Homo sapiens: one gene and its partner. The protein of the gene in region 2 interacts with the protein of the main gene of each other region in a pairwise test. Each region holds a gene or a part of one and is shown on either strand. Other genes may lie near its edges.

What was found.
Region 1: the proteins of AHI1 (region 2) and SPATA7 interact in a protein complementation assay, tested with the Homo sapiens proteins (one study listed by IntAct).

What each region holds. Positions count from the first base shown.
Region 1 is NC_000014.9:88,430,585-88,434,244, reverse strand, and holds part of SPATA7 (spermatogenesis-associated protein 7), read right to left. Parts: intron 3,074-3,660; coding exon 3,020-3,073; intron 1,111-3,019; coding exon 1,033-1,110; intron 1-1,032. UniProt on the Homo sapiens protein: Involved in the maintenance of both rod and cone photoreceptor cells.
Region 2 is NC_000006.12:135,487,599-135,491,258, forward strand, and holds part of AHI1 (jouberin), read right to left. Parts: intron 3,150-3,660; coding exon 3,025-3,149; intron 1-3,024. UniProt on the Homo sapiens protein: Involved in vesicle trafficking and required for ciliogenesis, formation of primary non-motile cilium, and recruitment of RAB8A to the basal body of primary cilium.

The DNA of each region.
Region 1 (3,660 bases), on a different chromosome or scaffold from region 2:
CTGGTTTTTGGTACAATTATAAAAATGCTGTAATAAACAGTCTTATAATCTTGAGAAAAACATAAAATTTTAAGCATAAATACATATGATTTTGTATGTGTACTTTTTTTCTTGTGGTGGCAAAAACTAACCAAACTTATCATCTTAACCATTTTTAAGTGCACGATTCAGCAGTGTTAGGTATATTCATATTGTGATACAGATTGCCAAAACTTTTCATTATGTATCCTGAAACTCTTTACCCATATTATGCAAATATTATTAACCAACTTTTTAAAATGAAAGGGGTCAACAGAATTAATGCCAAAAATCTTAGGTCTTTTTGATATGCCTTTTTATACCAATAATGAAAATGTTTGCTTTAATTTTTTAAAAAACTTGATGTAGAGGATAGAAATAATTTATTAAAAATGTCTATGCTTGGCATATTATTATGACAGAGAAAGCAAGTAGTATACATAATAGGGTCCTAGGTTACATAACACAAAGTAGAGCTCAGTGCTCAATGAATCTTAGATACATAAATGTTCAAGCAAAATTCAGGACACACAGTTTCCTTAAGCTATGCAATAGCTAATCTGGTTTTGCAAACTTTCCATTTAACTTACAGCGTGCAAACCTAGCTCTTAATTTGTTCTCATTTTACTAGATCTAATACTAATAATGGTTGCACCAAAAATGCTTGCTTTTGATTCTCATGACAATTTTAGGTAGTAAAATGGGATTATGGAGCTTTGCAAATAAGTGATAAAGATCTTCCTTCACTAGTCACTTATAACTCAAGGGATATAATATTAAAATGAATAAAAGCTCTATTCTTTAATTCTCCCAAGTGGTGAACTTCCCCTAGAGTATGAATTAAACATTCTTTACAACTTGCTATCAATTATAATAATAAGTTTCCAAGAAAGCAATATATTTTTTCATTTCCTAATATGGGAAAATAACTTTAAAATTTTAACATCATATGAAGAAATATGAAGAATATTTAATGTACTCCTGAATTAACATAACACCATTAAAAAAACTAACCTGTTTGAAAATAAACCAAGTTTCAAAATTTCATCTGTTACATCTTCAATGAAACTCAGATACAACAGTTCTTCTTCACTGTAAAAGGAAGGCAATATATAGCATAAAAATTATTCCTTACTTATTCTGAAAACTGTAAGAAACATTAGTACCTAATTAGAAATATCTATCTCTACCATTACCAATGTACTTCTATCTCATATTACTAAGGGGAATATTACAAAACAAACATGTCTACCTTCTCAAATTATGCAAGGATAAATATTTACTAAAGGTGATGACCTAATAGAGTAAAATTTCACAGATATCTGCAACATCCATAGCAGTAAAAAACAAGCAGAATTAAACAACACAAAAAGAAAGCAACGAAGGACAAGGCGCAATCAAATGCAATCCACTGGGAGCAAGCACTCCCGAGGAATGTTTTAAATTTCCTCTTGCTCCTGACCAGGTCCAGCAGCAGAGGTGCAAGTCCCTCTGCAAAGCATTTGCAAGAAGGAAGAGGAAAGTTGTCCAGAGAAGCAGGAGCTTCAACTAAGAAGTCCTCTCCTAGCCCTAGGCCAGCATCTTGTTTTAAGGTTGAGAAATTTACTAAGCAGAAAAATTTATTTTTTCTCTCAAAACGTTTGGAGACGAAAAATTCTCATAGGAAAATTTGTGAACATAAATCTTGTGGTAATTTTTAACTACTTGAACACACTTCTCTATTATAACTATATTTTAGTAGCTATTACAAGAAAATTAGGATATTATTGTACGTTTGATTTTAATTAGCTGAAATTAGTGAATTAATACCAAATGTAAGTAGCAAGTAACTAAATTACTGAATAAGCAAATATAAGGGAAGAGTTAATAAGCAAATCAAATAATAGATTTAAATGTTTAATAAAAAGTTACACTTTCAAACTGATTCACAGGGTCTTGCTTATTTAAAAACAGCATATTTGAAAATAAATAAAATTTTATAAATTATTTTCCCTAAAAAGAGTAACTTAATTAAAACAACATTAAAATCTACAAATAAAATATCTGCAAAGAACTGCTGAGGTTAGAAACCTCTGGAAAGAGTATCCTGAACTATTAAAAGTCTGCATTTCTCTAAAACTCTTCTTTATTATTTTATTATTTTTACTTAAAAAATAAGTAAGAATCATGGATACTGATTATTAAAAAGTATCAGGTAATACCTGGGGACAAATTTCTACTGGAGATAAAAATGACGTGATTGATAATTATTCCAGAAAGTTGTTATTATTTCTCAAAAAAATTCGAGAAAATTATTCAGGTCAGTTTCTCAAATTTAGTATGTATTATACGATTGATATCCCAAAGCTGGTTGTAAGAGAGATTAGTGTTCACAGATGAATGGATAAAGAAAATGTATATATACACCATGAAATACTATTCAGCCATAAAAACAAATAAAATCATGTCATTTGTGGCAACATGGATGGAACATGGATGGATGCTGGTGAAATAAGCCAGCAACAGAAAGTTAAACATCGCATGTTCTCACTCATATGTGGAAGCTAAAAACAGTTGATTTCATAGAAGTAGAAAGTAGAACAGAAGGTACTGGAGGCTGGGAAGGGTAGACGGGAATGAGGGACAAGCTGAGATTTGTTACAAGATACAAAATTATAGCTAGATAGGAGGAGTAAGTTCTAGTGTTCTATACCACTATAGGATGACTACCATGGTTAACAATAATACATAGTTTCAAATAGCTAGAAGAAGGATACTCAATGTTTCCAACACAAAGAAATGATAAAATGTTCGAGATGATGGATATGCTAATTAAACTGTTCTAATCACTGTACAGTATATGTATCAAAATATCACTAGGTACTCCATGAATATGTACATTTATTACTTGCCAGTTTTAAAAAAAGAGATTATTGTTCAATCCTGACTTATTTAATATGGTTTCTTTGATTCTTAATCCTTGATTCCACTATGCAAAACGAAGACTTAAAAAAGATCTTACTCAGAGTAGATTTTACGAGTTGAAGGGGGCTTCAGGGAATACTGACACATTGCCCTAGAAAGAGGAAGTTAAAGTAGTTGAGCAAAACAGTGGTTGGCATACAATAAGTACTCAATAACATTGTATATTAGTACACACTGAATAGCCCTTATCTTAGATGTTTGGAACCAGAAGTGTTTCAGAATTTGGATTTTGGAATATTTCCATTATATACTTAGTAGTTGAGCATCTCAATCCAAAAATCTGAAATCCAAAAATGTTCCAATGAGCATTTCCTTTGGGCATCATGTCGGATTTTGGAGTATGGTGAATTACAGATTTTCAAATTTGGGATGCTCAACCTGTAATTACATGTTTCAGCAATTTTTAAAGCACTCTCATACCCATATCTAATTTAATCTTCTAAACAACCCAGTCAGGCATGTGGGCTGTGTATTATTTTTCCCATTTACTGATTAGTTCACCAAGGGTCAGAAAGGCTAAGTAACTTTCCAAGGTTAATGTTAGTAAGCAGCAAAGACAGGTTTTTAAACTACTTTTCTAGGTATAAATTCACAATTCTTTTTAAAACTACACTACGGCACTTCTCTAGTATAAACAATGACAATTTGACTAAGGTTAATGTATAGATAATGCTGGAT
Region 2 (3,660 bases):
CCATATACAGTGTATAATAATCAAATCAGAGCATCTGAGATACCCATTACTCCAAGCATTTATCTTTTATGTTGGGAACATAAATCTTCTCTTCTGGCTATTTTGAAATATACAATAAATTATTAACTGTAATTTCCCTACTGTAATACTGACTACTAGAACTTATTCCTTCTAACTATATTTTTGTACTCCTTAACCAACTTCTCTTCATCCCTTCCTCTAAGATCTTAAGATGTTCTATTCTTAAATTCTTAACTTTGATTCATATCTAGAAATGGTACTACATCTTTAATAAATCTTAAATCTTTTTTTTTTTCCAGGGAGGGAACACTGATATTTCTCTAATAATGCACATATGTTTACAACTACCATCACAAATGACTGACAACTTAGGTGACCAGATTCCTCAGGCTACAATTTTTCTCTTAGTGCTCTAAATATTTCTCCATTGTCTTTTGGATTTAGTGTTTTTACAGAGAAGTCTCAAATGTACTATATGTTTTTGTGTTTAGGTGTCTGCAATATTTGACTCTTAAGATACAAACAAAAGAATTTTCTAGATATAGTTCTCATCTCATAAATTTTGCCTGGAATGCAGGATGACTCATCTCTTCAGAAATCTCAGCAAGGTTTCTTCATCATGCTCATTATTGTTTCTGCTCCACTAGTACTGTCCCGGGATACTTATTTGTGGGTCAAATATCTTTCTATGTCCTCATCATTTATTTCTTTCATTTTAGTTTTGGTCATTTCTTCCCACCTCGAATTTGTCTCCCACTTCACTGATTAGATTTTTCCGTAGTGTCAATTCCATCATTTTAGGCCTGAGATATAGTTTTAAGGAAGCAACTGAAGAACATGAACTTTAAAATTGCAGAGACTGTGGTCTTAAATCCCACTTATCCTATTTTAGACTAAATGACCTAAGGAAATCACCTAACATGTCTGTTTGTCTGTTTATAAAATTTCTCATGTGCAAAAAAAGAATCCCAATATCTATCTTGCATGATTAACATGAGATTTAGAAATAATATTTGTAAAACTCTTATTATTGTGCCTTATATATAACTGGAATATAAGATGAACCTGCCATTATTATGAATCCCTATTTTGACTTTTTTCCTCGCTTAATTTTATTTCAGACTGCTCCATTTCTCATCTCAGCCTGTTCTGTACATAGGACTCCCTGTTCTTCTTTCAAGAAGAAGTCCTATCTTTTCAAATTTCATTAAAATAGATAATATTGGGTTGTGGTTAAGGCAGTGGATTCTGCACTTCCACTCAGTGTTTGAATCCTGGTTCTACCATTTACTATGTAACTTTCAGCAAGTTACTTAACTTCTGATGTAGTTTTCTCCTGTACAGAAATAAAACCCTGTAATTTCGTCGTTTGTATTAAACGACTAAATATATATAAAGTGTTTAGAAGAGTGCCTAAAGATAGAAAGCATTAAGGCATCTAGCAAATGAAAGCAGCTATTCCTCTTTTACTTCCTCAAGTTAATCATGTCAAAAATATTTTGTTCTCCTCTAAGTCCTTTAGAAATATTCCTGTTCTTTTGAGCTGCGAAATATCTTCCCAAATATTTGTTCCTAGTGTACTTATTTCTGAAAGAAAAGAAGCCTATTCAGTCCTGGTGTTTGCAAAGAGAGGCTGGATAAATTATGCTTAGTCACCTCACACTTATGTGCCCCTCAACATTTAAACTGGACCTTAGGTAAATGGACATAGCCTCTGCCTATTCTGATTATCCATTTAATTTAAACCTTGGTCTAAATTGCATTTTGTTCATGGCTCACAACTCCCAGTTCTTTAATACTAAGAGACAATATGAGGTTCTTCTCTGAGCATAAAACATCTCTGCAGACAACTGTTTCCAGGGTTCTTTTTGCTTTTGCCCAACATAAACCACTCCATCTGAGGGGAGCGCATATATCAATAAGCAATGTTTCATCCTCCATGTCACTATTCCCTACCATATTGTGCACTAGTACCACCAGAAAAAGCACATGCTATTTCAGAGCAGCAATCACTATGGGAGTGCTAATCTGTCCATTCTGTCAGTAGTTCGAAATTTTTGTGCAGTCGTACACCAGTGTATACACTATGAACCCTCACATATGTGCAGCTGGATTTTGGTCAATTTTACTACTTGTTTTTGCCTCACTTCAGAATTTATATTGTTACATTGACATCTGCCAGACAGAATACTAAAATGAACAGGTCTTAAGAAAAAATGGGGTAAATCTTACTACAAGCAAAATGTAGGATTATAACTCATTATAAAACTCCTGCCAAAAAAAAAAAAAAAACTATGTACCATTTACACAAGAGCCTGTTTATTTTTTTCTGTGAGGACAGAAGAGATAATGGTCAAAGTAGTAAAAAGTGCAACTCAAGTAGGGAGATAGGTATAAAGAGGGCATAGAGCATTAACTGTGGATGCCAATACAGACTCTTTATGATTCCAAGGGGATCAGGTTGTAGTTAGTTGCTGATTTGCTTAGTCTTTGAGCACTGTATTTTTAATTCCTTCAAGTGTGCTGCCAAAGATTCTATCATTTGAAAGTGTGCCTCAAACATAAAAGGATAATTATTACCATACGGCCATTGATTTCTCCTGGTTCTGTTGGGTAGAATCACACAGAAATAGTTTAAATAAGCACAAGCTATTCAATATCTGAAGTTAAGATACTACTTCCTAAGTTCTTCACAATTCTGGGTTAAAAATATTTTCTTCAAAAATGTTATCATGGCTAGTTTTGAGTTTCCCCACTATCTCTGGTCATTTTCCCCACTGTGTGTGTGTTCTTCCTGTAGGACAGCACTCAAGAATGAAGTCAATATTCTCACAGTGATGTTGATTCTAATATAAACTTTATTTTTACCACATGTTATTGACCATGACATAGTGTTACTGTTTTTAATTTTCAAAATTCCTTAGAATTTTAACATAAAATGCAGCCATATCTGCATTTTATGCGCATATGTAAATCACTATTACCCAATGATCATTTACTTACTGAGATGTTTTCTTCAGACCTGACAAGTTTTTTCTTCAGTTTTTTCTTTTCACGCATTAGATCACTGTGGGTCTTAAGCAATTCTTCAAAGCGAACTTTGGTTTTTACTTTTGCTTCACTCTCAGCTACAAAAGATACAGCCATGTGATTTTGTAAATGACTCTATCATAACACACAACCTACACTACTAGGATGTTAAGAAATAAGTTCTTGTAAATATCGGCATGAGTTCTCTAGCTACATTAGAAAAACTCACCTATCTTTCCTTCTTAAAATATTTTTTATTTTGACTTTAGTGACACAACATTCACCTGTATCCCTCTGACCTTTTTGGCCACTCACTCTAAAAGTCTCCTTTGCTAAGTTAACTTTTTATTTCTGATAAACAGTAGCATCTACCACTGTTAGTTACGTGTTATGTGGCTTTAGACAAGTTACTCAAGATCTCTAAACTTCATTTTCCTTATCTGTAAAATCACAATTATCTTATGCCAAAGATCATTTTGCATGAAAAATGGCTAAGGTGTGCCTAGCCTGTAATCAGTATTCCACAAATATTAACAGGTTTTTCCTTTAAAACATGAAGAAGATAATGCTTAAGCCCCTGAAAATTTCCCAATACATTTAGGATAAAAT